Regions from separate parts of the Homo sapiens genome. Here all the other regions are linked to region 3. Evidence: fine-mapped expression QTL. Tissue or cell type: whole blood. Region 3 holds a variant in brackets; each other region holds the start of a gene. Each region is shown on its reference strand, or each on the opposite one. Region 1 holds the start of PPBP (pro-platelet basic protein). Region 2 holds the start of CFAP161 (cilia and flagella associated protein 161). Region 3 has its middle 24 kb from the start of ARHGEF3-AS1.

The links. PIP is the estimated chance that this variant, and not a neighbour inherited with it, causes the effect.
Region 1: PPBP starts here. The variant in region 3 is fine-mapped to the expression of PPBP in whole blood (TOPMed, PIP 0.96).
Region 2: it holds the start of CFAP161, and the variant in region 3 is fine-mapped to the expression of CFAP161 in whole blood (TOPMed, PIP above 0.99).

Annotation. Positions count from the first base shown.
Region 1 is chr4:73,984,725-73,994,933 of GRCh38, reverse strand. PPBP (pro-platelet basic protein) reads left to right here and starts at 6,744. Exons shown (of 3, transcript NM_002704.3): 1 at 6,744-6,978; 2 at 7,282-7,417; 3 at 7,560-8,495. The coding sequence starts at 6,831. The coding sequence ends at 7,662. RefSeq lists enhancers at 9,065-9,577, 9,578-10,091.
Region 2 is chr15:81,129,035-81,139,391 of GRCh38, reverse strand. It overlaps CFAP161 (cilia and flagella associated protein 161), which reads right to left and starts at 5,122. Exons shown (of 7, transcript NM_173528.4): 1 at 4,994-5,122; 2 at 4,033-4,122; 3 at 2,644-2,876; 4 at 1,257-1,341. The coding sequence starts at 5,062.
Region 3 is chr3:56,911,196-56,921,552 of GRCh38, reverse strand. It overlaps a transcript of ARHGEF3 not described here. Among named protein-coding and RNA genes, the nearest start is that of ARHGEF3-AS1, 24 kb to the left of the region's middle. RefSeq lists enhancers at 4,652-4,741, 4,668-5,218, 5,219-5,771 and a silencer at 5,552-5,621. The variant C/T (reference allele first, on the strand shown) is at 5,526.

The DNA of each region.
Region 1 (10,209 bases), not on the chromosome of region 3:
GATACTGTTCTAAATTCAATAACCTGGTTCATGGTAGATGTCATTTTTTTTTTTTTTGAGACCGAGTCTTGCTCTGTTGCCCAGGCTGGACTCCAATGACATGACCTCAGCTCACTGCAACCTCTGCCTCCCAGTTTCAAGCGACTCTCCCGCCTCAGCCTCCCGAGTACCTGGGAGTACAGGCACCTACCAGCATGCCCAGCTAGTTTTTGTATTTTTGTAGAGATGGGATTTCACCATGTTGGCCAGGGTGGTCTTGAAATCCTGATCTCAGGTCATCAGCCCGCCTCAGCCTCCAAAGTGTTGGGATTACAGGCATGAGCCACCCTGCTCGGTTTTAATTAAATTATAACTTGTTTACCCTCTTTTCTCCTTGTCTAGCAGTAGTCCAACAAGGAGTTTGGCATGCACAATCCTCTCAATCTATAATACCTCCCCTCACTTTTACCAGGGTAGCTACCATCCTTCCTTCTGGAATAGCTTGCCTTTTACTTTCTTGAGGAAACCTCTCCAACCCTTACTCCTACCTTTGAGGAGGACCCTTTTATACCCTCTCATAGCATTCTGTACTTTTCCTTCATGAAGTTTTCTCACCGAAGTTACTGTAGAGTTTATTGAGCCTGTGTGTTTATTGTCATCCGTTTAAGGTCTCTCTGTTCTAGCTTCATGTAAGCCTCATGAGGGCGGGGACAATGCTTATCAACTTCATCTCAGTTCCTAGGACAGTGCCTAGCACATACTAGGTATTCAAAAAGCAAGTGATTTTGGCTAAACAAGTCCCCTTGTCACTCTAAAATTAAAAGAGCAATTTCATTTAAATACATATTCTTAGGTTATACTTAACATTTCCCTATCTAAATGACAAATGAGGTTCTGTCTCATCCCAATCTTGATCAGTACTTCAACTTCCCTTGTCCCTCAAATTTACTATATAAATACCTAAGAATAGGTATTTATATGAAATTGCTCTTTTATGAAACACAAGAAAAGGAAAGAAAGAAGATTAATCATATTAGTATGTATGTACATACATTCACACTCCAGTTGGATTACATTATACATGTTTATATTGGCATGTACTTGTATATATTAGAATAGGCTATGAGTCTTTTTTTTTTTTTTTTTTTTTTTTTGAGACCAAGTCTCACTGTCGCCCAGGCTGGAGTGCAGTGGCATGATCTTGGCTCACTGCAACCTCTGCCTCCCAGGATCAAGTGATTCTCTTGCCTCGGCCTCCAGAGTAGCAGGGACTACAGGTGCGTGCCACCCTGCCCAGCTAATATTTTTGTAGTTTTAGCAGAGATGGGGTTTCACCATGTTGGCCAGGATGGTCTTGATCTCTTGACCTCATGATCTGCCCGCCTCATCCTCCCAAAGTGCTGGGATTACAGGCATAAGCCACCAGAGTCTTTTAAAGAAGCTCTGGAAACAATATACTCTCTGTATATTTTCTGTCAATTACATAGTACCTATCAAAATATATGATGTATTTTCCTTTGTATAAGTATTCATCAATCAAATATTAATTTATTGATATTAATCGATAATCCTGTTACATGCCTATTATCTTTGTAGGATCCTTATGATCTGGAAATTATAAAGATGAGGAACTTTCAGTCTAAGTTAAGGTTTTCTGCTGCAAATATACTCAGTTTTCCCACAGAACAAATATTTTCCAGTAAGAAGAGTGGAAGAAAGGGGAGAAGAGGTGAGGGGAAGAACTAGAAAAGAGAAGACTAGAGGAGACAAGGATGAGAGGAGGAGGGTGTTGGAAGGGACTATGACTTGCCTGTTTTTTCCTTTCTATTTTCTTCCTTCTCTCCTTTTCCTTCTTCTTCTCTTCCCTCCCCTTCCCTTGCCTACTCTCCTTCTCTCCCGCCATTCCTCATTTCTGCTTATTAGTGAGAAGTTAAATAATTATATTTAAAAGAGTAGGAGAAGAACGCAGGTGCCCCAGTAGAAATCACAACCAGCAGCCAACACCAACAACCTCTCATGTGAATTAAGCCATTAAAATGTTGTTTTAAATTATTTTATTATTTTTCTTATTCTTAAGAAAATGTTGTGGGTACATAGTAGCTGTATATATGTATGGGGTACATGAGCTGTTTTGATACAGGCATGCAATGTGAAATAAGCATATTGAGAATTAGGTATCCATCCCCTCAAGCATTTATCCTTTGGGTTACGAACAATCCAGTTACATTCTTTATGAGTTATTTTAAAATGTACAATTAAGTTATTATTGACTATTGTCACCCTATTGTCCCACTCTTTATTTCAGCCATTTCAGCTGCTCTTGACTGCACTCAAGTGAGCTTAGCAGAAGAAACTCACGCTAACATACAGAATTATCAGAAACAATAAATTAATATTTTAAGCCACTAACAATGAGGTCGACTTATTACACAACAAAAGAGGATTAATGGTACTTGTTAACAATGCTCTAGAACATTATGTTAGAATTTCCTTAATGAATGAGCATGTAAGGAAACTAGGTAACTTTCATATATTTGAGATTTAACAAATGATATTAATCAACATAATTTAAAACACAAATTCTGAGTCTGGCAAAACTTTGAAGTATTGTATATAATAGCGCCCAGAAAGATACTTCCCCTCAACTTCTTCACCCTCCCCACTGTCCTCCCATTTTCACCCCATGCTTCACCTCTGGGCAGTAGACAGTAAAACCTCAATTCACATCTGAACAATTCTTGTCAACTCATAGTTATACAGTAAGCACATTTGGTTTCAGCCCTTACAGAAAAACTTTTGATGGCTAGTATTTTAAATTTATTGATTAAGATACTTTAATGAACAGACTCAACATTGTACTATCCTTAGCATTTTTGGTACTAATTGCTTTTATGATTGATTTGCTTGTGCTAGTCTATTTCCTTCATACTTGAAAGAAGGATTTGGGAAATGTGCGTTAAAAATGTTCTGTGTGAGGCAGAGAAGTCATTTATGCCTTAATTTTATAGATAGTGGTCCTCCAATGTCTCTAGATATTTTCTTTTAAAATAGCTAACATAAAATGTGCTTTGAGTCTTAGATAATTTGCTTGCTTCCTTCATGACTCTGCTATTTATAAGATGACTTAAAGAAAAAAGAGCTAAAATAACTTAGCACCCCCCAACACACACATATACAAACCCACAATGACAATGTAAGATTAATAAAAAGGCTGTCAAGTTATTTTAAAAACAAGGAACAAAATAACTCTTCTCTAATTCTAGCATTTATTTAAACAATAATTTTGCATAACAGTATGCTTTTAACTGAATAAGTTTTTAAAAACATCTTTTAACCAGTTTTGTACACTCAGTTTATCATCATCTTTACTGTGTTTCTCAACGTGGAAATGGAAGGGAATGATGCAAATGACAGTAACAGCAATTAACAGCAGCAGTTGTCATCATAGCAGCAAGAGTAGAGTATTTTTCATATCCCATTGCTTTCCACAAATATTTTAGGCCTGACTTTTAAAAAATAAATAATTAAATGACCAAGTCATGCAAAGAGAACTTCGTAAAACCTGTTAGGAAGTTCAGGCTTAATCAACTGATGCTTAATCAATATTTTTTGAGTTAATAAAAACTAGCAAAATATTGTTTTATATCAAATGCTGACTGATATCCTTAAGAAATTTTGATGACTCAAGAAATCTGTTACTACTTCCTCACGAATTTTGCCGACGATGTGTCTTTCGTGACAAGCCACATTTGTTGATTAAGACAATGACTCCATGATACTGGAGTCACCTCTTTCCTGGTATTAACCCACCAGTTGGTTTCCTGGTAGGAAAGAGCCTACCTTTTTCCTGGTATCAACTCACTCAAAAGCATCATTACTTCAGAAAACTTTTCATACAGTTTTCTTAAAACGATTAGGAACTTTTAGGAAATCTTACTAATGAACGAGGAAAGAAATCTGGATAACGTTAAGTAGGGGGAAAAAAGGTGTCCAGTGAAGCCAATAAACATTTTCAGCAATGTATTTTGGTGTTGAACAGAAAATGAAATATACTATGAATAGTGTTAAAAAAAAAACCTTTATATCTTGTTCTGGAAATGGCTTTGATCTTATGTTTGAAAATGTATATGACTTGCGAATTCACAATATCTCAATCTCAATAATGAAGAAAAGCTATAAAGTCACCCCACAGGAGGAAAGAGAAAGAAGTCTGCTCCCCTCATTTTGTGTCCTGCTGAGCTTATCTCTGCAATTAACTCCACATCTCAACTCTCAGAAGACTCCGAACTCTCAGCTTACACCCTTCCTTTAAGCTTGCTTAAGACTAGAAATTTCTATGTTGTGACAGGGAGAAAAATCATTCCAATTAAATATGCTCTACTGCTAAACTCTAATTTAAAGAAAACAATAAATGAGGTGGAGAAAAATAAGAAATACATTCATCAACTGAAACTAAGGCTAGTGAGGCAGAAATAATTTTATACATGTTTATTGAAAGCCAACTGGGAAGACAGACCTGGGAAGACACATCCACAAAGTTGGGGGTGTTCTAGAGTCTTTCACAAGTTACAAGGGCTTTATATAATAGAAAAGCTTAAAATAAGGCAGAAAAACTCCTCATACCAGAGTTGTCTTCTTTTTCATTGGAGGGTACAATACCGAAGTTAAAATCATTAGCTACAGATTACAGCATACAGGCTAAATGTCTACATACAAAACAATCAATAAAACTTTTTGTTTCAGCTAAACTTAGAAATAAATCATTGTCCTATTTAGTGTCAGTAGGTTCTACAGTAATTAGTACATCAATCATTTGAGGAACTCGTAATAAAATACTTTACTCAGAGATAGAATGTCACCATCAAGTCACGAAACCTTTCCAGGGCGAGTTAATTTGGAAGTCTGCTTACTTCTAAAGTAAACTGTCAAATGTGGTCTGTAGGTTATCGCATTTAAAAACAGGACCTGAGAACTTGAGTAGACATAGTAGATAACTATTAAACAATAGGGAAAATTGGCTTGAAAACAAAAACATGATTTAAAAAATTACTATATTCATCTTTTTGATAGAGAGTAATTTTGAACATTTAGTATTTTAAGCATTTCTTCTAAAATTTAAGGATATGAAAAGTAAGAAAAGAATATGGAAAATTTAAATAATATTCTGTGAGACTTATACATAGTTGTAAAAGGAAGAAAACTTGTTGCCAGTGCCACTTACATCTGCCTCTTCTTTATTGACAATCTTCCAAATAAATTTAAATAGCATAGTTGCTTTGGGTCCTGTCGAGTTTGGCCTGGAATTGTAGGTGATTAGAAAGGATAGGGAAGCTTTCATGTGATACGTATTCATTGATTTATTAATTATTTAAGACCTACTTTATATTGAAGTATCCTACATGTTATAGGATACATGAGACATTCAAACAAACACAGGACATGCCACTCCCTACAAAAGTGCATGGTTCAATTGAGGAAGGAAGTCTTACAGATGGGACAGAGAACCAGAAAATAACATAAAGCCAACATGTAATGTGTAGGTCCACCTCTCTATCTTTGTAGGGATATAGCATTTCAGACCAAAACCTTTAATTTGGGTCTGAGAATTCAGGAACAAATATTTTCCTTGGTAAGGACATTTCTTGCACAATTTCTAATAGTGCAAAATTGGAAACACCGTGAAGGGCACCAACAAGGCAAGGTTGAGTAACTATTGTTCTTATCACAGGACGTCACATGGTCATTAAGAAGAATGGGGGAAAACTACATTAAGATGACCTGAAAAGATAAGGAACACATATTTTTTGAAGGATAAAAGTCAGCTGTATAGTGATCCATATACAATACTTCTATGTATATGTGTACCTCTATGTCTTAAACGTGTCTCATTGTATACATATACATGTGTGCATATAAGTGCAGACAGAATTGAAAACTAATGCAAAATTGTTACCAGTGTTTACCACTGAATAGTAGGAATGTGGAGAAATGATGAAGAGAAATTTGTGTTTTATTTCAAAGACATCTGCAGCATACGAATCTTTTGCAATAAATTATATAATTTTTCTGTTAAATTAAAAATAAAAAGAAAAATAAATATGCTGGGTCCTACTTTTTAGGTATTCTTAGGTGGTAGAAACAAGTAGCTTCTTTTGTAATATAAAGGAGGATGAGTTTCATTTGTAGTTTCTAGATGAAATTACAAAAGATAATATAGATTGAAGGCAGAAAGAATCCAATAAGCTAAAATCCAAAGACAACCTTTGACGGTAATTGGCTCTTATTTTACTTACATGCTCCAAACCAATCCCAATATTTATCAACATTCATGAAAAGAACATTTGCTTTCTTTGGCAAGCAAAGATAACTTTCTCTTTCAAGGGCCACATGTTTGTGCCTTCAGGTGCTCCTAAAGTTTCTATTAAGCCTAAAAACTGCAGTATAGAAAAGGCAGGGCGTATTGTTATAAATCATACAAAGAAAATGCATGTAGTATTTCAGTCTAGTTCTTACCTTCCTGAACGGAGTTCTTACACAGGTGTAAGGAAGATAAGTATTGAGAAAGGGAGAGTGGGAATGTGAAGTGATGCACATTAAGCAAGTTAGTAGGAATTTGACCTGTCTGGTCTTTCTCTGGGTTGGGCACAGCTTCAAATGCTTATGTGTGTATCACCACATACCCTCACTTCCTCCTTTCCTACCTCTTCCTTCTTACTGGCTTTGAGAAAGAGCATATAAATGACATCTTCAGGGCATGAGAAGCCACTTATCTGCAGACTTGTAGGCAGCAACTCACCCTCACTCAGAGGTCTTCTGGTTCTGGAAACAACTCTAGCTCAGCCTTCTCCACCATGAGCCTCAGACTTGATACCACCCCTTCCTGTAACAGTGCGAGACCACTTCATGCCTTGCAGGTGCTGCTGCTTCTGTCATTGCTGCTGACTGCTCTGGCTTCCTCCACCAAAGGACAAACTAAGAGAAACTTGGCGAAAGGCAAAGGTAGAGGCCCTGCTTCTCTGCACTTGTTGCTGCTTCTGCTACACCTGTCTCTGGGGTAAAGACTAGCTTGGTGCCTTTGGGGCTGGAGAGGGCCATTATACCAATAACTCCAATTGGAGGAGACACACAGGGGGGTCACTTCTCACTTCTTGTGTGCTGGGCAATCTTCTGGGCACTTTACTAAAGCGTTACAGATCATATTCACAATGGCTTTATGAGAGAGGTACAATTGCCCTCAATCTGCAAATAAGAGACCTGAGGAAAATATTCATGACCACCAATAGGTCACATTTTCTACCCTAGAGGAAAGTCTAGACAGTGACTTGTATGCTGAACTCCGCTGCATGTGTATAAAGACAACCTCTGGAATTCATCCCAAAAACATCCAAAGTTTGGAAGTGATCGGGAAAGGAACCCATTGCAACCAAGTCGAAGTGATGTAAGTTGCTGTTTCTGTGCTATTGCCTTATCAGAGAAACCCTCTACCTCCATCCACATATGCACTCGTTTCCTCCAGTCTCATGGATTAGTTCTGATATTCAGATCAGGACACCCACAGATAACCCTGTTCTCTTTTGCAGAGCCACACTGAAGGATGGGAGGAAAATCTGCCTGGACCCAGATGCTCCCAGAATCAAGAAAATTGTACAGAAAAAATTGGCAGGTGATGAATCTGCTGATTAATTTGTTCTGTTTCTGCCAAACTTCTTTAACTCCCAGGAAGGGTAGAATTTTGAAACCTTGATTTTCTAGAGTTCTCATTTATTCAGGATACCTATTCTTACTGTATTAAAATTTGGATATGTGTTTCATTCTGTCTCAAAAATCACATTTTATTCTGAGAAGGTTGGTTAAAAGATGGCAGAAAGAAGATGAAAATAAATAAGCCTGGTTTCAACCCTCTAATTCTTGCCTAAACATTGGACTGTACTTTGCATTTTTTTCTTTAAAAATTTCTATTCTAACACAACTTGGTTGATTTTTCCTGGTCTACTTTATGGTTATTAGACATACTCATGGGTATTATTAGATTTCATAATGGTCAATGATAATAGGAATTACATGGAGCCCAACAGAGAATATTTGCTCAATACATTTTTGTTAATATATTTAGGAACTTAATGGAGTCTCTCAGTGTCTTAGTCCTAGGATGTCTTATTTAAAATACTCCCTGAAAGTTTATTCTGATGTTTATTTTAGCCATCAAACACTAAAATAATAAATTGGTGAATATGAATCTTATAAACTGTGGTTAGCTGGTTTAAAGTGAATATATTTGCCACTAGTAGAACAAAAATAGATGATGAAAATGAATTAACATATCTACATAGTTATAATTCTATCATTAGAATGAGCCTTATAAATAAGTACAATATAGGACTTCAACCTTACTAGACTCCTAATTCTAAATTCTACTTTTTTCATCAACAGAACTTTCATTCATTTTTTAAACCCTAAAACTTATACCCACACTATTCTTACAAAAATATTCACATGAAATAAAAATTTGCTATTGACTTGTTGTCATCTATTATTAATTTTAACAGGATTGTTGGGGAAAAAAAGCTTTAATTTTCCTCTCTTTTTTGTATACTTGGTATTTCACAGTTTGAACAACAAAAGTTACTAAATTGATGATCGGTGTCATTCTTAATGTAGTATGATAACAGTTCCAATTTATTAATCATTTTAATATGCCAGGAATACTAAGTGTTTTCCATGCATGAACTAAACAATTTTTTAAAAGATAGATATGATCTGGTTAAAAGAACATCCTCTGGAGTTTGAATAATGAGGTAACCTGGCTCTGCCACTTGTTAGCTGTGTATATCAGGTCATGTTGCTTAATTTCTCTGTACCTTAGGTTCTTCATCCCTAAAATGGGGATAATATTGCCTCCCTCATAGAGTTTATGGAAGGATTAAAAAAGTTAATAAATTTAAGGTATTTAAAATAATGTGTGTCATAAATAAGCCACACATAAATGTTAGTAATTATTTCTTATGATTATTATTATCCTCCCCAGTGTTACAGAAGAGAAAAATCAAGTTTATAGAGTTTAAAATACTTGCCCACTTTCAGATAACTAAGTAGGTAACAGAGTGGGAATTTCAAATTGTGCTCTTAACCACCACACCACAGTGCTTTCCTCAACTCTTCTTTCTCTAATGAAGAGATTACATTACATATAACATAGTATTATTCACACATGTAATACAACTTGATACATAAATAGCATACTGTATATACTATAATAATTATAGGGTATCAGGCATCTCACTCATTATGTTTAGTGGTTTCCCACTGAAACTTGACAAGACCAGCTCCTGAGACATGGCACAGTGTTGACACCATGCTTATACCTCCCGAGATGCAGATGTCTTCTGTTTTTGAGTGCATGTATTGAGTTACTCTGTTTACATGCAGAGAAAGAATGATTCAGTTGCCACTCAGGACCACCTGGATTCCTTTACACTGCAAACATTAAAATCTGGGTGTAAGACTGTAAAAACCCAGCGTGTTGCCCATCCATATGCAAAATCATCCCTCCCCTTCATTCTCTCTGCTGTTAACTCAGAAGGGGCTTCAAGTTTCAGGTTCATAAACACATATGAATTACAAAACATTCTGCAACAGCCATTGTGTTGGATACAGGATATTCAAAAATACAGTCATGTTTTGCTTAACAATTGGGATACATTCCGAGAAATGCATCATTAGGTGATTTTGTCATTGTGTGAACATCACAGGGTGTGCTTACACAAACCTAAATGGTATAGCCTACTACAAACCTAGGCTATATAGTACAGCCTATTGCTCCTAGGCTATAAGCCTGTACAGCATGTTACAGTGCTGAATACCATAGGAAGTTGTAACACAATGGTGAATATCTGAGTATCTAAACATCTGTAAATGTAGAAAGATATAGTAAAATTATGGTATAAAAGAGTAAAATGGTACACCTCTGTAGGGCAGTTACCACAAATGGAGCTTGTAGGACTGGAAGTGGCTCTGGATGAGTCGGAGTGTGAGTGGTGAGTGAATGTGAAGGCCTAGGACATGACTGTACACTTCTTTAGGCTTTGTAAACACTGTACACACTTAGGCTACACTAAATTTATAAAAAATATTTTTTCCTCAACAATAAATTAACCTTAGATTACTGTGTTTTTTATTTATAAACTTCTTAATTTTTAAACTTTTTGACTTTCGTAATAACACTTTAAACGC
Region 2 (10,357 bases), not on the chromosome of region 3:
TATCAGGCTGCAACTTACCATCTGTGGGGTGTCAAAGTTTAATTGGTAGCATCGTTTCTTCTTCTTTTTATTTTTTATTTTTATTTTTATTTTTTGACACAGGGTCTCTTTCTGTCACCCAGGCTGGAGTACAGTGGTGCAAACTCTACAGTTTCTACCTTCCGGCTTAAGCAATCCTCCCACCTCAGCCTCATGAGTATGTGGGACTACAGGAGCGCGTCACCATACCTGGCCAATTTTTTTAAAATTTTTAGTTGAGATGAGGTCTCGCTATGTTGCCAAAGCTGGTCTACAACTCCTGGCCTCAAGTGATCCTCTTGCCTTGGTCTCCCAAAGTGCTGAGATTACAGGCATGAGCCGCTGCACCCAGCAGGCAGCATTGTGTTTTCTTAGTGGTATCAAAAATAATAATAATAATAACGCTACATCATATAGTAAATGGATTTTTAATTCAATAAAAAATGTGATATAGTACTAGCTCTGCTACTTGCTAACTGAGTGACTTGAGTCAGAAATCACTTAACCTCTTGGTGCCTCAGTTTTTCCATCAGTAAATTAAAGGTAAAATAGTCCCTACCTCAAAGGCAAGTTTGGGGGATTAGGAGAGTTGAAATATGTGAAGCATTTACAACACTGCCTGGCATGTAGTAAGGTAGATTAATACTCACCATCTTATGGATGAGAAACAGGCTCAAAAAGCATTAAATAACTTACCCAAATTCCCATCCCATAGGTACGCACCTGAAATTCAAACCCAAATCTATCTGGTTCTATTATACTTCCTAATCCCCAAGGCTCCCTGATTTATGCAAATTTAAGCATCTCATATTGTCCCTACTCCCATACTAAGCAAAAGTCTGATCATCAAAAGTTTAAATAAAAAAGTTGTCAGATAATATGCCTTGCTAGCATTGGCAACATTTGACAGGTATCAGATGGTTATTAATGAATTCAATCATTTAATTTACAGGTGGAAGTGGTATAAACTTTTGCTTTTTGCCAGCTGCATTGTGAAATGGTTTTCCTCCCTTACTGTTTAGGTTTTAAGGGTGTAGTTTTTGTAATTTGGGAAGTTAAAAGGAAAGACTGGCTTGGCCCAAAACTGCCTGTGAAAAGCTGCAAGCTGACACCATAGTGAAGTCAGAGGTGGAGCCCATGACTCTGGAGTTCTCTGTCCACTTCAGTAGATAGTTATGATCCCATTTTGGGCAACAGAAATGACTGATCCAAAGTAGATATGCAAAGTGATAACTCACCATTTTGTTGTCAAATCCTCCTGTTATCCCCAGGCAAAAGTCCTGCCCATATCTAAGGACTTGACCAGTGGCATCTCTGTGTACACTGTCAGTGGACAATAAGTATAATGTAAATGTAAACTCTCTGTATTAGAATCATTCTATGACTCTATTTTTTATGCATGCAATTTTGTTTATAATCAGTTTTTTGATAATTTATATTCACATACTGTAACTGAATTAGGTAATTAAATAAAAGGTGTTTTCTTTTGGTCTTAAAATCCAGCTAGCACCCTACTCCCTGCCCTGCACCATAGCTAGCACACAAAGCATCCCCACTTTGTGAGCCTCTGGTTAGAGTAAACTAAGCACATCTTGCTAATGTATACTAAGGAATTCTGGTCAAGTGCATTGACATGTTCAGAGAGAACCAAGGTAACACATTTGTAGACATTTAATACGGTTCCCTCTTAATCCTTCAGGATAACAGAGGTTGTGATCAATTTTTACTTGTCTTAACATATGTATTCAAAGGAAATCTAAATTAGAACTTGAAGAACTGTCTATATATTCTTTTTTTTCCCCCAGGCTGGAGTTCAGTGGTGCAATCTTGGCTCACTGCAACCTCCACCTCCCAGGTTCAAGTGATTCTCATGCTTCAGTGACACAAGTAGCTGGAATTACAGGAGCCTGCCACCACGCCCAGCTAATTTTTTGTATTTTTTGTAGAGATGGGGTTTCGACATGTTGGCCAGGCTGGTCTCGAACTCCAGACCTCAGGTGATCTGCCTGCCTTGACTTCCCAAAGTATTGGGATTACAGGCATGAGCCACTGTACCTTGCCTGGGTCCATATATTCTTGCAATGCTTACATTGCTGTCATACGAATTAGTAATAGTTTTTAATTGTGATCATGTATCTATTTCTTCTCTAAGGATTTAATTGTTCATTTTCAAAATCTCTTCAAATACATTTTTAATGGACAGTTAATTTTAAAAGAGAAAATCCCATCTAGTGCCACATTGTATTAAACTACACGTTTTTATTGTAAAAAAAAAAATAGCCGTATTAAGAACAATGAAAACACTCAAATGAGCTCAAAAAGTTCCAAAATGTTATAGGGAAAACCTACTTTGCTTCCAGGCAGAATATGGATTTAATTCCCTGGATCCTATACTCATGATTTAAGCATTTTGAATTGAACACAATTATCCTGCTGTCTAAGGTAAAAAGGGATTGTAAAGTTCCTTTGACAATAATTCTCAAGGTAAGCAAAGCAAGATGAAAATCACGAAAAATGTTCACAAAACCTTTCCCTCCACTCAGTGGCTCCAATACCCAGGAATCTTTAAGCTACAAGTGAAACATATTTATGATGAAAATGAACTGAAAATTAAAGTCTCTTTACCTCAAAATGATAAAAGTGTTTCTGCCAATTGGGGTCTTGGCTTGAACTGCGCTCAGGCCACAGGGTACCTCTAATTCGTCTTTCAGATGGGACTGAATTTCATCTGGAGTCATACACAGGCTCAGGTCCCCACGCAGAAACACATCAGCTTCTGTGTCAGGATCATCAGGATTCACAAGCATCACTTTGTCACCGTAATGAATATAGCCATCTTCAGTTACGGAAAGTTGCATCTACAATTTTGATAGTAGTTTATTACATAAACCATGCAATTCCTCAACAGTTACTGCCAAGGCAATTTTCTTCCTTCTCGGACTAGTACCCATTTCATTCAGGATTTCACTTGGATTCCCTCGAACCCTTAGTTCCTTCTTCCTTTCCCTTCCCCTTTGCCAAGGCAAAGCTCCCAATAATTCCAAATGAAGTCGAATAAAGCTGGTTAAAATCACATGGATTTACTCATTATCCTAGAAATTCAACATTCATTGAAAAATTTGTCGATTACCAACTAAGGGGCATTTTACTTATTTACATATTAACTCATTTATTTCTTTATTTGTAAAATGCAGGTAAACATGATTTAGGGCAGACTGTTTATGTTTCTAAAATCTTAGAAGAATTTAAAACATTGCAAATTGTTTTTAAAAACTGTTATTTTCCAAATGGTAACTCAGTTATGAAATTTTTTTCTTGCTTAACATATACTCACACCAAGTTCAACAGAATTTTGAAAACAATGTCTGAATTTAAAGTTACCGGTCTCAATAAACATACGTGTGCATGTGTCTTTATAGCAGCATGTTTTATAATCCTTTGGGTATATACCCAGTAATGGGATGTCTGGGTCAAATGGTATTTCTAGTTCTAGATCCCTGAGGAATTGCCACACTGACTTCCACAATGGTTGAACTAGTTTACAGTCCCACCAACTGCGGCACTATTCACAATAGCAAAGACTTGGAACCAACCTAAATGTCCAACAACGATAGACTGGATTAAGAAAATGTGGCACATATACACCATGGAATACTATGCAGCCATAAAAAATGATGAGTTCATGTCCTTTGTAGGGACATGGATGAAGCTGGAAACCATCATTCTGAGCAAACTATCGCAGGGACAGAAAACCAAACACCGCATATTCTCACTCATAGGTGGGAATTGAACAATGGAGAACACATGGACACAGGAAGGGGAACATCGCACACTGGGGCCTGTTGTGGGGTGGGGGGAGGGGAGAGGGATAGCATTAGGAGATATACCTAATGTTAAATGACGAGTTAATGGGTGCAGCACACCAACATAGCATATGTATACATATGTAACAAACCTGCACGTTGTGCACATGTACCCTAAAACTTAAAGTGTAATAAAAAAAAAAAAAGTTACCGGTCTCAAGAGATTCTGTTTTAGTCTTCTACTTCTCTGTATGAGAAGTTTCCCCTTGTCTCTCTTCTCTAAGAAGTCTTTCATGAGCTCCTAAACAGAAAATCAACAAAAGTAGCCCTGAATAATATAGATGTTAGTATTAATAACTTTTAGGTCAGAAGCTCTTCCAAGTTGAAAAAGCAAAATTTGAGTACAAAAAAAGAGATGTGAGCATAATTGGAATGATGGAACGTTTTTAGCACTACTTTAATATTTTTACTACATTATAGAATGTTTAGAAAAATGAGAAAGGCAAAACAAAGAAAAAGAAACATCACCAGTAATTACTCCAGCCAGATACCATCCTAAATGACATTTGGAGGCCATGTCTCCCCTGCTGGGGTTTCCCTTGACCGTATGATGACTGACACTAGAAAGTTCACCCCTCCCCAATCTGACCCGTATACGAATGGCTCAAAGCCTTGTTAAGACCACCCTTGGGAGAATACGAGGCAGTGAGTGAGTACAACGTCAATAAAAGGAATACTCAGGGTCATTTAAGAGGGCAAGCGTGGCAGGGTTGGAGTGGGGAGGGATATTATTTCTACCTAGAACCTGTGTCCTCACCTGGCCCGCAGCCTGAGACTGTAAGACTCTAAGGAATACGGGGGACTTAGTGGGGCTCTAGACTAAGCGGGAGACACAGGCCAGGGGCTTGAGAGTCAAGGCATCTGACTTTGGGAGGCCAAGGGACCCAGAGAAAGAAAAGTCAGGGTGCTCGGAGTAGAGGTCAGTGAGACCTGGGTTTGCAGTTCGGCAGGTGAGATTCCTTGGGAGTTTAGAGAAGTGGGGGATTTTAGAGGTATTCGCTGTATGCTGGGAGAGAGAGGAGGCTTGAGGCGCTCAAAGTAGGAGACTGAACTTAGAGCAGGGTCTGGGAGTTCCTGAGCTGCGGGTCTGCGCCTGGCCACACCCTGCGTACCTCCTCCAGGTAGACATCCTCATTCCAGTTGCCTATCCGGACTCCCGGACCATACACGTTCTGCGCCATCGCTCCCTGCTGTTCAGCAAGTGGGCCTCCCTCCGACACCATGCGTTAGCGTGGCGCGTCGCCATGACGACCCGGCCCCAGGCGATTGGTCAAGGTCTGGGACCCTGCTGGCCAATAAGCGACAGCGCGCACCCTCGCCCTGGGGCGGGAGATGGGGCGTCTGGGTCAGCGGCTGTCTGTGGCCCTCCAGCCCGCCCCACTTCCACCTCTTAGATTTCCTTAACTGCAGGGTGGGCGAGAGGGAAAACCCTGGCTGACAAAGTGCTTCCGAGAGAGAAATTTAAAGCTTTCTTTCTATTAGAATCTAACCGAAAAGTGCTATCGAGTACCCCTTGCTTGTCGAGGCAACAAAGAGGAGCTTTTAAATGGAAGCACGGCTTGCTTGCAGCCTATTTTTTGTAATCAGCAGCAGCAGCAGCAGCAGCAGCAGCAGCAATTTCGCCCTAATCATAAAACAATACCTGCTCAATGTACACATTTGGAAACCAAAATCGCATAGAAAGAAGAAAGGAAAATTAATAATTTCAGGGCCTTAAAAGTAAGAAATATACCATGTTAGTATATTTCTGTTTATAGGTTTCTGAGGTTGTCCATATTTTTGCGGACTTGACAGCATCCTCCCTCCCTCCCTCCCTTGCTCCCTCCTTCCCTGGGTCTCAAAGTTAAAGGACGAACCTGTGATTTGCAGGAACTCTTAAGAAAACCAGACTCTGCTGTAGCCAGCATTAATAAAACAAAATATTATTTTCTGGGGAGGGGAGGGATACCAGTTACTGTAGGACTACCGGAGGCTTGATGCAGATTGAATGCATTCAGTAATTTACCTCTATTTAGTGTCTAGTAAGACATGACTGAAATGGAAGACAGGAGCCTCCGCTCCCTTCAGCAAACCCAGTCTAAAAGAAAAGATAGTTCATGAAAACGAATTACTTAAGGAAGACTGTGGAAAAATGCAATTAAAGATGTGCTGATGGGCTGGCGTGGTGGCTCAAGCCTATAATCCAGCACTTTGGGAAGCCGAGGCAGGAGGATCACTTGAGCCCAGGAGTTCTAGACCAGCCTGGGCAACATAGTGAGACCCCATCTCCAATTTAAAAAAAAATACATATATATATATATATATATATATATATATATATATATATATATATATGCTGATGAAGGGCCATGGAGTTGAAGGATCCTTTCTGTCTTGAGGAACTGTGAGAATGGGAATTGGATGGCCTTTGAGTGATGGGAGAGGGGCTGCTTTGGAGCTGAACTGGGAAGGATTTGAACTGGCAGGCTGAAGTGTAGAATAAAAATAGGAACATTCCCACATTCTGATGAATCCACCAGCTCTGTCAATATATCACCACATTCGAGGATACTTCTGAAGGACACATAGGACAAAGCAGTTAGATCAGATAGTATACCACTAACTGCATTTGATAAATTCAGAAACTGAGACTCAAAGAAGCTAGCAGTCTAAATTCAAACTGCTAAAAGTTGCTCAAAGAAAGGACTCAGTCCAAACTTTCCGACTCCAAAGTCATGTTTGTTTGTTTTTCCTTTTAAGTATTTTTCATATTCCTCATAAAATCAAGAATAAAACAAAGCAGCTCTAGTCTCTACATTTTTAACAAGGTTCTAATGATTGGGTCATTCAGTAAGTCCTTACACTGATACAGCTTTGCTCCCACCTACTTCCTTAGTGCTATTTTTGACAAGTATATTACATTTCTATATATAATAGACCCAATAATACAATTATACATAGTGTTTTATACAATTGCTTTAAATCACTCAGGAGAAGAAATATCTTTATTGGTGCTCTATGGTATTTTTCTATGAACACAAATTACTGCTTTGTGTTGTTTTCAACCTGAATAACTTCCTTCCATATTTCTTATAAATCAGGTCTGCTAGCAACACATTCTCTTGGTTTTTGCTTACCTTAATAAGATGCTTTTTCTGGATACATGATTCTTTGTTGATAGCGTTTTTTTCTTTCTTTCAATATTTTAAATATGCCATCCTACTACCTCTGGACTCCCTTATTTCTTTTTCTTCCAAGACAGAGTCTCACTCTATCAACCTGGCTGGAGTACAGCAGCACAATCTCGGCTCACTGCAACCTCTGCTTCCCAGGTTCAAGCAATTCTCATGCCTCAGCCTCCTGAGTACCTGGGGCTAAAGGCATGTGCCACCATGCCTGGGTAATTTTTGTATTTTTAGTAGAGATGGGGTTTTACCAGGTTGGCCAGGCTGGTCTTGAACTCCTGACCTCAAGTGATCGGCCCTCCTCAGCCTTCCAAAGTGCTGGGATTACAGGCATAAGCCACCCTGCCCAGCCATGGCCTCCATTATTTCTGATGAGAAATCAGCTATTAATCTTATTTTGCTTCCCTTACACATACTCTTGCTGCTTTCAAGATTTTTTTTGTCTTTGTCTTTAATATTTTAACTAGATATATTTGGATATTGACCTCTTTTCTTTTATCCTGCTTGAGCTGCCTGAATATGTAAATTAATGCTCTTTTCATCAAATTTGGGGAATTTTCAGGCCTTATTGTTTGGAATATTTTTTCTGATCCTTTGTCTGTCTTCTGTCTTTATGAAACTCCCATCATGTGTATATTGATGCACTTACTGATATCCTGCATTCCTCCAAGATGCTATTTGTTTTTCTTCATTTTTTTCTCTCTGTTCTTCAGATTGCATAATTTCTATTGATTTGTCTTCAAGTTTGCAAATTTTTGTTTTGCTGGCTCAAACTTACTGCTGTATTCCGCTAGTGAGTTTTTTATTTTGGTTATGGTACTTTTCAACTACAGAATTTACATTCGGTTATATTTTATAATTTCTCTCTATTGATATTTTATATTTCATAATGAAACACTATCATCATACCTTCCTTTAATTCTTTAATCATGGTATCCCTTAGTTTTTTGAACATATTTATAATGGCTGCTTTGAAGTCTTTGTCTGCTAAGTCCAACATCTGGGCTCTGTCAAAGGCAGTTTCTGTTGACTTTTTTGTTTGTTTGTTTTTTATCTTCTTTCTGTCTGTGGATCACAGTTTTCTGTTTCTTTGCAGGTCTCATGATTTTTTGTTGAAAACTAGACATTTTAGATACAGGAATACATCATTTTATTGCAATTCACTTTATTGCACTTTGCAGATATTGATTCTTTTTTTTTTTTTTTTTTTACAAATTGAAGGTTTTTGGCAAGCCTGCATCAGGCAAGTGTGTTGGAGCCATTTTTCCAACAGCATACGCTCACTTCACGTCTCTGTGTCACATTTTGGTAATGCTCAAGATATTTCAAACTTCCTTATTATTATATCTATTATGGTGATCTGTGATCAGTGATTTTTGATGTTGCCATTGTAGTTGTTTGGGGCACCATGAACCATGGGCATATAAGATAGCAAATCCAATCAATAAATGTTAGGTGTTCTGACTGCTCCACCTACCAGCCATGTCCCCATCTCTCTCCCTCTCCTCAGGCCTTCCCAGTCCCTGAGACACAACAATATATAAATTAGGACAATTAATAACCCTAAAATGGCCACTAAGTGTTCAAGTGTTCAAGTGAAAGGAAGAGCCAAATGTCTGTCTCTGTTTTGTTTTTGTTTTTGTTTTTGAGATGGAGTCTCGCTCTGTTGCCCAGGCTGGAGTGCAGTGGCACGATCTTGGCTCACTACAACCTCCACCTCCCAGGTTCAAGCGATTCTCCTGCCTCAGCCTCCCAAGTAGCTGAGACTACAGGCGCATGCCACCACACCCAGCTAATTTTTTGTATTTTTAGTAGAGAGGGAGTTTCACCATGTTAGCCAGGATGGTCTCACTCTCCTGACCTTGTGATCCACCTGCCTCGGCCTCCCAAAGTGCTGGGATTACAGGCGTGAGCCAAGTCTGTCTCTTAAATAAAAAGCTAGATATGATTAAACTGAGTGAGGAAAACATGTCAAAAGCCAAGATAGGCTGAAAGCTGGGCCTCTTGCATAAAGCAGTTAGCTAAGTTGTGAATGCAAAGGAGAAGTTCTTGAAGGAAATTAAAAGTGCTATTCCAATGAAAACACAAATGATAAGAAAGTAAAACAGCCTGTTTCTGATATGAAAAAAGTTTTACTGGTCTAGATAAAAGGTCAGACGAGCCACCACATTCCCTTGAGCCAAAGCCTAATCCAGAACAAGGCTCTAATTCTTTTCAAGTCTATAAAGACTGAGAGAAGGTTTAAGGAAAAAGCCATCTTCATAACATAAAACTGCAAAGTGAAGCAGTAAGTTCTGATGTAAAGGCTGCACCAAGTTATCCAGAGGATCTGGCTAAGATCATTGATGTAGGTGGCTGCACTAAACAACAGATTTTCAATATAGGCAAAAAAAAAAAAAAAGCCTTACATTAGAAGATGTCATCTAGGACTTTCACAGAGAAAAAAGTTAATGCCTGATTTTCAATGTAGGCAAAAAAAGCCTTACATTAGAAGATGTCATCTAGGACTTTCACAGAGAAAAAAGTTAATGCCTGATTTTCAATGTAGGCAAAAAAGACTTACATTAGAAGATGTCATCTAGGACTTTCATAGAGGAAAAAGTTAATGCTTGCCTTCAAAGCTTCAGAGAACAGGATGAGTATCTTGTTAGTGGCTAATGCACCCCATGCTCATTTACTATTCTGAAAATCCTAGGTGATATGGTTTGGCTGTGTCACCACCCAAATCTCATCTCAAATTGTAGCTCCCATAATTCCCACATGTTGTGGGAGGGACCCAGTGGCAGATATTTGAATCATGGGGGTGGTTTTCCCCATACTGTTCTCGTGGTAGTGAATAAGTCTCATGAGATCTGATGGTTTTTTAAGAGGTTTCCCCTTTAATTTAGCTCTTTTTTCTCTTGTCTGCCACCATGTGAGATGTGCCTTTCACCTTCCACCGTGATTGTGAGGCCTCCCCAGCCATGTGGAAATGAGTCTATTAACCTCTTTTTCTTCATAAATCACCCAGTCTCAGGATGTCTTTATCAGCAGCATGAAAACAAAATAATACACTAGGTCCCTTAAGAATTATGCTAAATCTACTTTTCCTGTGCTCTATAACTGGAAGAAGAAAGCCTGGATGACAGCACATCTGTTTGCAGCTTTGTTCACTGACTATTTTAAGCCCACTGTTGAGATCTACTGCTTAGAAAAAAAAAAAGATTTCTTTCAAAATATTACTGTTTATTGACAATGCACCTAGTCACCCAAGAGCTCTGATGGAGATGTACAAGGAAATTAATATTGTTTTCATGATTGCTAACATAATAT
Region 3 (10,357 bases):
GACATTCAATAAAAGTGCATGACTGTGAGCAACTCTCAGGCTCTAATTTGATATTCTTTTTATTTCTCACTGGCTTGCTGTGCTTTATGCCTCCCTGATAACCTAGTAACACCCAAATTTTGTTTTTCCTTAGTGTTACCTGAATTTGTTTTTGAATTTTTGTTTTTCCTTAGTCTTACCTAAATTTGACAACAGTCTTAGAAACCTAAGATCTGAGAACTAATAATCTTATGATGTTGGAACCTTGGGTAAGCCAGTGTGCAATATATTATTTTAATTTGGTCACGGCTACCATCCCATTTGAGATTTTTTCCAACCTTTTTTTTTTTGGTCTTTTTTTTTTTCTTTTTATGGAGAATAGGGTCTCACCATGTTGTCCAGGCAGGTCTTGAACTCCCGGGCTCAAGCCATCCTCATGTCTCTGCCTCCCTAACCACTGGGATTACAGGTGTGAGCCACTGCACTGGCCCATGAGTTTTTTTTTTTTTTTTTTTTTTTGAGATGGAGTCTCGCTCTGTCACCCAGGCTGGAGTGCAGTGGTGCAATCTCGGCTCACTGCAAGCTCCGCCTCCCAGGTTCACATCATTCTCCTGCCTCAGCCTCCTGAGTAGCTGGGACTACAGGTGCCCGCCACCACGCCTGGCTAATTTTTTTTTGTATTTTTAGTAGAGACAGGGTTTCACCACGTTAGCCAGGATGATCTTGATCTCCTGACCTCGTGATCTGCCCGCCTCGGCCTCCCAAAGTGCTGGGATTACAGGCATGAGCCATCGTGCCCGGCCTTGGCCATGAGATTTTTTTACTACCTATTTTTAAATTCAGTTTGTGGAATTTTAAAATTTGAAGTATCAAATGGGGTATGTTTAAAGACCTTGAAATTCCCTTTCCAACTGTAAGATTTTGTGACATTTCTGGCTTGTTAAGTACAAATAAGAAAGACATTAAGGAACCAGGATAAAGTTCAAATGGAAAGAATCATCGTTGCTTGCCAACTTTTAATGAAGAAGTAATTCTGCTAAAATCTAAATATTTTATTTTATGTAAATGAAATTCTCACAACCCTGACGAGTATGTTCCTTATAATATCTTTGGTAAGGAAATTGCTTGGAACTTCTCAACAGAAAATACCCTCAGATATATCGAACAAGAACACAGGAAACATGGTTCTGGTTCTAGTGATACCATGACACTTTTGGTGACACCTTAGTTAGGTCCCAGTTTTGGTGCTAATCTCTTTAGAGCCCAACAAGAGGGGTTGTTACCAGTTTGGTTATTTAACCAGCTGTGGGAAAACAGGGTTCATCTTTGCATCGTAGGCACCCTATAGGTAGTTTCCTGTGTATAAATATATGATTCAACTCTATATACTGAAAGAAAAATACCATACCCTGAAAACCTATGCCCCCAGAATTTTGTAGGTTTTTTTCCCCCTTTTAACATTTCTCTCCAATCTATGTAGAATTTATGTTGGATGAGTATGAAGAAGGGCTTTAAAATGAGGCTTTTCATTCCAAGAGGCAAGTGAATTGTCCCATTGTTAGCGATCCTTCTCTAGTGGTTTGTGCTCTAATATGTCAGATTCTTGAATATCCCAGAGCAGGTTTCTCGCTGTGTCTTCTGAGGGCTGTATGCTTGTAGCAGGAGCTCTGAAGTAAGCTTGCTAGGCCCCACTCCTGACCAACCTCACCACCTCTAGGCCACGTGCCATGGGTAGGCGTACACCACCTTTTTGAGTCTCAGTTTTTTTAAATCTGCAAAAAGAAAGATAATAATAAGGCCTACTTTGGGACTGTTGTGAGGATCACGTGGGAAAATACATGGTAAGTGCTCATATTAAAACATAAAAAATCCTTAGTCGCTGTGGTTTCAGTAATTGTGGCTGTATGATATGTTAATATCCACACACAGGTGCACTTTCATCATGAGTTATCAACATTGGCAGAGGTAAGAGGAATGGACAATGAGAAGTGACATTTCAAGTGTATCTTTCGTATTTGCTAAATGTCCACAGGGCAGGTGGCTAAATGAGTTAATTTCCTTCCATACCATAGCATGCTCTGCAGTAAGAGGTCAAAAATGTGCGTGACAGGGAAAGATGCCCTGGATGTTAAATGAAAAAAGAAGCAAGTGGTAGAACAATGTTATCATTCTATTTTTGAAAAAAATAAGATGTTACACCCAGCAACTCGTGTTTTTAGACAGAAGGAAATGTCTGGAAGGATTACCACCAGAGGGTGCAAACTGGTGGCCCCTGGGCCAAATGTAGCCAGCAACTGTGTTATGTGGCCCATACAGTACTTCTTATGGTGATGAATAGTTGCCAGCATTTACAAATTGAGAGATTTTACATAAAACCCTGAATTTCAGGCTTCTATTGAAAAAATTAGAATGTCTGCTCACCCTGGATGATTAACCCCTTAGGAACCCGAAAAGCTGGAACTGACCTAAGACAAAAACTCTCAGTGGTGCCCCAGTGCCCACCTGGCCTTTTCTTTCAGGTACCTGACCCCTGCTCCTAAATCCTTTTGGGTTTATGAACCTCTGTCTACGTCTGGCTTTTTAACACCAGTGCATCCAGCAAATGGGATCGGGATAGAAAAAAAAGTAGGGCCTTTGGGAAGACTCACTTTTTACTTTATATACTTCTTTGTGGTTTGAATGTGTATACTTCTGTGTGGTTCGAATGTGTGACAGTGATGCTATGTTACTATTAAAATGTAAAAACCAATACATAAACATGTTTGAATACTTAGTAGTATCCTAGATGCCATAGAGAAGACTCCTGTTCCTTTTGATATCCCATTATAAAGCTCAAAATGAACGTGGACCTTGCGGATCAGAGCCTCTTACTATTGAAATTCTCCTCTTGAAGTGCCTTCTTCATGGACCCATTTCAATCCGGGAGTTCTTGCTTCTGGTCAGAGCAAGGGCATCAGAGGAGACGGCCGTGCCCTGTTTTTGCTTCCTTTTTGCAGGCTTGCATCCCTTTCCCCTGCCAGGGCATCTGTTGGCCCTCTCTCTGCCCCTCCCTGCTCCACTGCTACCTGCCCTGGAGCCCCTCAAGTTTCACCTCTTGCACGAAGTGCTGCAGCCCACGGGTTTCAGTTCTTCTTTCCCATTCAGTCAGCAGCCGGAAGTTAGGTTGAATCATTCTAGGATTTGTTCATGTGAATGTTTCCTTCCTCCTCTCCAAAGAAATAAAACGTACAATGCCCTGGTCGTCTCACATTTCCAGTGAATCCTTACTGGGGTGAGGCTGGCCTTGGCTGCTGGGACTCCTTGAAGTGGCTTGTCAGAAAATACTCCAAGAGAGGAATGGCTGGGTGATGGAGCCTCCCGCATTTCCCAGGGCACTGTCTTTCTTCATCGGCTGAATTGTCCCCAAAGCTAGCTAATCTCAAGTTGTTTACAGGCTTGTTCAAATTTAGGACCCTTCCTGTGTAGGAGGCTGGAACAAGACGCCTTAGGAATACCTGCCCTTACCCCTCCACCAGCCACCACTTAACCAGCTTGCTTTGTGGGGAGTCAGGCTTTAGGAAATAGGGAATCCCAAGGACAATCTGAAACCCACCTCTCAGTGGACACTGTCATTTGATCTGACACTCATTACCGAGTGCTTCCAGGTGCTAGCTCCATGGTGACCCAGATGCTTGCCTGAAAGGCGTAAGGCTTTTTACAGTGATTTCACTTCCTCCTTTCTCTAAGCAGGTGTGATTCCCTCACACTTTTTGAAGCAAGACCCAAGCCTGTCAGTTCAGCTTCCAGACCTATTAAAGTACTTGGTGTCTTCCAAAATACCCTGTAGTTCTGCACTGCCTTGCTGTTGAGTTTGCCAGTTCTTTTGCCTAGAACACCCATCAGAACGCTGCCCATGTGTCTCTGGCTCTGAGAACCCTTCTCAGACTTTGTCCCCATGAAAATGCATTTGCCAAGCTCACTTATTTCCTGGACCCCTCAGCACTTTTTGCAAATTTCTGGCAACGTGAATGGAAAGAGCCTGCTTTCTCATAAAAGTCTTGGATTTAATCTCCTTCTGTTAGACCGGAAGCTTGTTGTTCAAATGAACCTGCTGTCTTTGCTGGGTCCCCAGACTTTACTCAGGCTTGAGACAGAGGAAGGCTCTTAAAAATCCGTGCATTTGTAAGAAGGCCCCAGGAAACCCTGGGCTAAATCTTAACAGCTAAAATTTGTAATTAGGAAGATTTTTGCAAGTCAAATACTACCCCATTAGATAACTAAAATAAATAAATAAATAATTGAGAACTACACTGGAGTTATGTCTCCTTGAGTTTGAGACCTTCTGCCAATGTGCAAGGAGGGTGAGAGTGCTGGTTTGTTTGTGGGGAAGGAGTGAGCCAGGCATAGTTTTCAATCTGAAACCTTGTAGTTTCCTATGAGACAAGTCTACCTCACCCAAGAGGTCTGGGTTTTTTATAAGGCAAGGAACTGGAGCAAGATGTTCATTCTGGTGAGATCCCCACTTCATAAAACAAGAAATGTCAGCCATGAATTATTTCCATAATAGCTCTGAGCAGGAAGACCTCTTGTTATCCATGACAAAAGTTGAAAGGGAGGTTTCCAGAAGCAGCTATTTTGAAAGGGCTCTGAAGAGAAGATGCCAGGTTTGCATAAGACAAAAAGAAACGGATGGGTGTGTAGTTGCTTTTGAACCGCGACTCAGTGTGGGCTCTGTATCCCGGACAGGGCTACTGATTCTTGGGTAAAGTTCAAGTAGATCATTGATTCCTCTTTGAAGACCCAAAGCTCTCCTCCCAGTGTCCCTTCTCCTAGTGATGCTTTATTTTCTATTTCACCCCAGTGTTTGGGTCTGCAAAGCTCCAGGCAGCACAGCCGCTGCAGCCGATGGGATGCTTCACATTGCTTTTGGTGGGGACCCAGTGAGCACTGTTTGTCTCTTACAGGCTGGGGATTGTCAGTCAGAAACTGAACTTCTGGTGTACCTTTGAATGCCCAAAGAGTGCTCTGCAAAAGCAGCAGTAGCAGGAGAGGTGGGGAGCTCTTGACTGGTGCGGCTCTCAGCCTCTGACACTTGTAACTGATGGCCCCTGTCACTTCCTGTCATGCAGCCCAAGTGGCGGGGAGGAGTTCCTTCAGGGAAACTATGCTCAGCCCTGTTCAGAGAATCCTGTGCACAGGGCTCCACTGCAGTTAGGAGCCGGTGAGTCCGGGTGGATGAGGTCAGAGCGCCCCATGGTGTGGTGCTGCCTCTTTGTCCGTTCGCAGGTAAGCCCCCTGCTGCTGAGCCTGGGATGGGCCGGCTCTCAACTCCCACCCGAGCCGGGTGGGGTGGTGCCAGGATCTGAGGTGTGGGAGGATGCAGTGTTCTCTTTACCTTCCAAGAAACTGATCAGGGAGCTGCTGTTAAAAGCACCTGGGATGATGGAGCCAGATTCCCGCCTCACTTTCGTATGAATCAGAAGAGCACTGTGTGGCTGTGTTTAAGACCGCAGATGGCTTTGCTTGGTTGCGAGGGTGAGCTGAGTGGCGTGCATAGCTGTCAGGGC[C/T]TCCTTTAGCATAAGTGATTGGAGGGGAACAAAGGGAAGGGCTTTTCACGCTCTGCTGTGCAATGCTACTGTTTTAATTTTTGTAAGAGAATGGTTTTAATTAATGGGAAGGAAAAGAGGGAAAAGAAGGATGCATCTGCCTTCTGTTTTGTTGTTGCTATTTAATCACAAAGTGGATTTCCAAGATCTTCTCTTTTTCTTTGGATTGGAAGATGGCTAAACTCAGTTTTAGAAGTTCATGCTGGTTGGAGCAACTGTTTTGTAGATTTCCCTAAAGTGATCCTGGTGTTTTGAGTCTGTTTATTATTGGGAGAGTGAAGTCAGATATTATCAGTGGAGACTCAGACTTGATACCATTCTCATTAAGAACATCGTTTTTTGGTTTGGGTTATTTTGGAAAGAGTGTCTGGAAATGTTATATTTCCATGGGTTGAAGAATGGTTAGGAGCTCTGAAGGTTACATTCCCTATCCCTTTTATTTATTTGTTTTTTGTAGAGGTAGTTGTTAAAGTTTTGGATGAGCCAAAACTGTTCTTTATTTGTTTGTTTGTTTTTGTTTTTTGAGACAGAATCTTGCTCTGTCATCCACGCTGGAATATAGTGGCACAATCACGGCTCACTGCAACCTTGACCGCCCGGGCTCAAGCAGTCCTCTTGCCTCAGCCTCCCGAGTAGCTGGGACTACAGGCATACACCACCATGCCCTGCTAATTATTTCATTTTTTTTTGTGGAGACGTGGGTCTTACTATGTTGCTCAGGCTCATCTTAAACTCTGAGCTCAAGCAATCCTCCTTGAGCTCAAGCTTCAGCCTCCCAAAGTGCTGGGGTTAGAGGCATGAGCCACTGCACCTGGCCTGCCAAAACTGTTTTTTAAAGGCAATGCCCATTGCTTTTTCTATTCTTCTCATCAGAACTATGTTCCTGGGACTGATTTCTGTAACCCTAATTCCAGCTCTTGTGTATGACCATTCTAGACATACTAATTTTTTTTCAATTTTTTTTATTGTGGTAAAATACATATAACACATAATTTACCATCTTGACTATTTTAAGTATATAGTTTTGTGATATTAAATACATTCATAATGTTGTGCAACCATCACCACCATCCATCTCCAGAACTCTTTTCACCTTGCAAACTGAAACTCTATACTCGTTAAACAATAACTCTCCATTCTTCCCTCCCCCATCCCCTGGCAACCACCATTCTACTTTCTGTCTCTGTGATTTTGATTACTCTAAGTATCTCATATAAGTAGAGTCAAACAGTATTTGTCTTTTTTTGACTGGCTTATTTCACTTTGCATAATGTCCTCTGGGTTCATTCAAGTTGTAACGTGTGTCAGAATTCCCTTCCTTTAAGAATATTCCGTTATTGTACATGGTGGTAATATTGCGTGGAGCTCTGAAGGTTAACAGAGAAACAAATACTCAATTTCTCTGTGAATATACGACACTATTGCATGATTATATGTAGTACATATTTTGCATTTCATTATTACCTCTAATAGTGATTGAAAACTACCCTCTGTATTACAAGGCTGAAAGATTTGAGAGCTGTTTACTGCATGCCCCACATTAAACAGTTTTTCTTGTCAATTAATATTGTTAAACGGTGACATACCACATTTTGCTTATCCATTCATCCTTGGATGGGCCTTGGGTTGCTTTCATGTTTTAGCTGTTGTGAATAATGCTGCTATGAACATGAATGTACAAATATCTCTTAAGACCCTGCTTTCAATTTTTTTCCCATAAGTCATTAGAGTACAGCTAGTATTTGGTTACATGAGTAAGTTCTTTGGTAGTGATTTGTGAAATTTTGTTGCACCCATCATCCAAGCAGCATACACTGCAACCTATTTGTAGTCTTTTATCCCTCACTCCTCTCTCACCCTTCCCCTCAAGTCCCCAAAGTCCATTATATCATTCTTATGCCTTTGCGTCCTCATAGCTTAACTCCCACATATCAGTGAGATCATACGTTGTTTGGTTTTCCATTCCTGAGTTACTTCACTTAGAATAATAGTCTCCAGTCTCATCCAGGTTGCTGCAATGCCGTTAATTCATTCCTTTTTATGGCTGAGTAGTATTCCATTGTATAAATATACCACGGTTTATTTATCCACTCCTCGATTGATGGGTGTTCCATGATTTTGCAGTTGCGAATTGTGTTGCTATAAACATGCATGTGCAAGTATCTTTTTCGTATAATGACTTCTTTTCCTCTGGGTAGATAGCCAGTAGTGGGATTGCTGAATCAAATGGTAGATCTACTTTTAATTCTTTAAGGAGTCTCCACACTGTTTTCCATAGCAGTTGTACTAGTTTACATTCCTGCCACCTGCTTTCAGTTTTTTTGAGTATATACCCAGAAGTAGAATTGCTAGAACATACAGTAATTCTATTTTGAATGTTTTGAGTAACCGCCATACTGTTTTCCACAATGGCTATTCCATTTTATATTCCCACCTACAGTGCACAAGGGTTCCAGTTTCTCCACATCCTCACCAACACTTCTAATTTTGATTTTTTTTCAATAGTAGCCATTCTAATAGGTGTGAAGTGGTATCACCTTGTAGTTTTGATTTGAATTTCTCTGATTATTAGTGATGTTGAGCATCTCTTCGTGTGCATTATTGGCCATTTGTATGTCTTCTTTGCAGAAATGTCTGTTCAAGTCCTTTGCTCACTTTCGAATTGGGTTGCTTATTTTTTTTGCTATTGAGTTTTAGGAGTTCTCTACATATTCTGAATATTAATCTCTTTTCAGATATATTATATGCAAATATATTATCCCATTCTTTGTGTTGTCTCTTTGTTTTGTTGACATTGTTTAGACATAGTTTTTTTTGTTGTTGTTGTTGTTTTTTTTTTTAGGAGACAAGGTCTTGCTCTGCCTTGCTCGAGCCCAGGCTCGAGTGCAGTGGCACAATCATAGCTCACTGCAGCCTTGAACTCCTGGGCTCAAGCAGTCTTCCCACCTCAGCCTCCTGAGTAGCTGGGACTACAGGTATGCACCACCATACCCAGCTAATTTTTTAACTTTTTTGTCAAGACCAGGTATTGCAATGTTGCCCAGGCTCGTCTTGAACTCCTGGCCTTAAGTGATCATCCCACCTTGGCCTTCCAAAGTGCTAGGATTATAGACGCAGGCCACTGCATGCCCCCCAGATGTATATTTTTAATACTTTGATGTGACTGGGGTAATTTCAGCCTTTCCCCATCTCACTCACCTCACTATTTGTTCTCTTGACAAAGAATAATTTTTGAGTCTTTCAAGTATGAAAGTTGACAATATTCAAATGATTGATTACATGTCAGTGATAGTTAATACAATGTTAATAACAATATAATACGATAATAACTTACATTTATTAGATGCTTATCTAAACACTTTACTCAGATTTGCTCATGAAAGTCTTACAACACTGTAGGGATTGGCTACTATCATTATTCTTGTTTTGCAGATGGCAAAACTGAGATTTACAGAAGATAAATAATTTGTCTAGGTCACCTACATGGTTAAGTAGTGGATCAGGTTTCAAACCCAGGAAGAATGGATTCAGAAATGATGTTTTTAGCCATTAGGTGCTATGTGATAACTTTAATGTGGGGTCCTTCCCAGATCTCCTATTATGTGCAACATCTGCAGTAACACTTTGCTTTCCAATGATTTGGTAAGTTATCCCATTTTGGTGAATGTTTGCTGTGGTCCAGTTAGTGCCTAAGTAAGAGGCACCTATGACAAGTCACTACTTTCTCTGGACTCAGTTTCCCCACTTGTCAAATCAGAGATGTCTCTAAACTCATTTTAGCTCAGATATGAATCTAAAGTATGCAAATATCTTGCACAAAAAGTCAAAAATAGTTTTCATATCTGCCCTACTTCAAAGTCAAATGATTTAATGAATGATTTAATGAATGATTTAATGAATGTGTTTAAGTACACATTTCCCAAGGATATCAACTAGAACTCAAAATGTAATTGGCTGACTAGCTACTTTATTCTGCTTATGAACATATATATGTATATATATATGTGTGTATATATATATGTGTGTGTATATATATATGTAATTTTTTTTTTCTTTTAGAGACAGTCTTGCTCTGTCGCCCAGGCTGGAGTGCAGTGGCATGATCATAGCTCACTGCAGCCTTCACTTTTTGGGCTCAAGTGATCCTCCCCCATCGGCCTCTGGAGTAGCTCAGACCTTAGTGTGTAAGGGCTTAGCAACAACAGGACTCTGAAGCACCTATGTCCTGAGGTAAACATGGACGTAGTTTGATTTTGTGGAGGGAAGGAAGCAGCATATTCGATGCAAGGTGGAGACTGCATTTTAAAGCCACTATTCTAGCCATGTTTTTACAGCTTGCCCAGGACGCCAAGTAGGAGCCATGGAAGGGGAAGTTGATTCAAACTAGATCCTAAAAAGGCCTCTCTTGATGGAACACTCAGACGTGTGACTCGGAGCGGGCAAGGTCAGAGTGGTGACCCCAGCTGTTCACCGGGACAGAAACAATGGGTGGCTTTAGGACCTAAATATAGACAAAGTGGATGTCACTTAGGGAAACTCATTCCTGATACTGGCCGGGGTGGGCAGTTCTCTTGGGAAGCAGCTCCTGTGTGCCAACCCTTGCTCTGCCAGCCCTCTTTTTCTGAATATCTCTGTCCATATTCTAGCTTCCCTGCATTCTTTGGGCACCTGCCTCAGCTTGGCAGCTTTGAAATAACCCATGACAGATCCTTATTTCCCCATCTCTCCCTTCCAAGTCTTCCTTGCAGTGCTTACCACCTCTCTCCTTTACCTCTCACAGACCCCACCCAGCC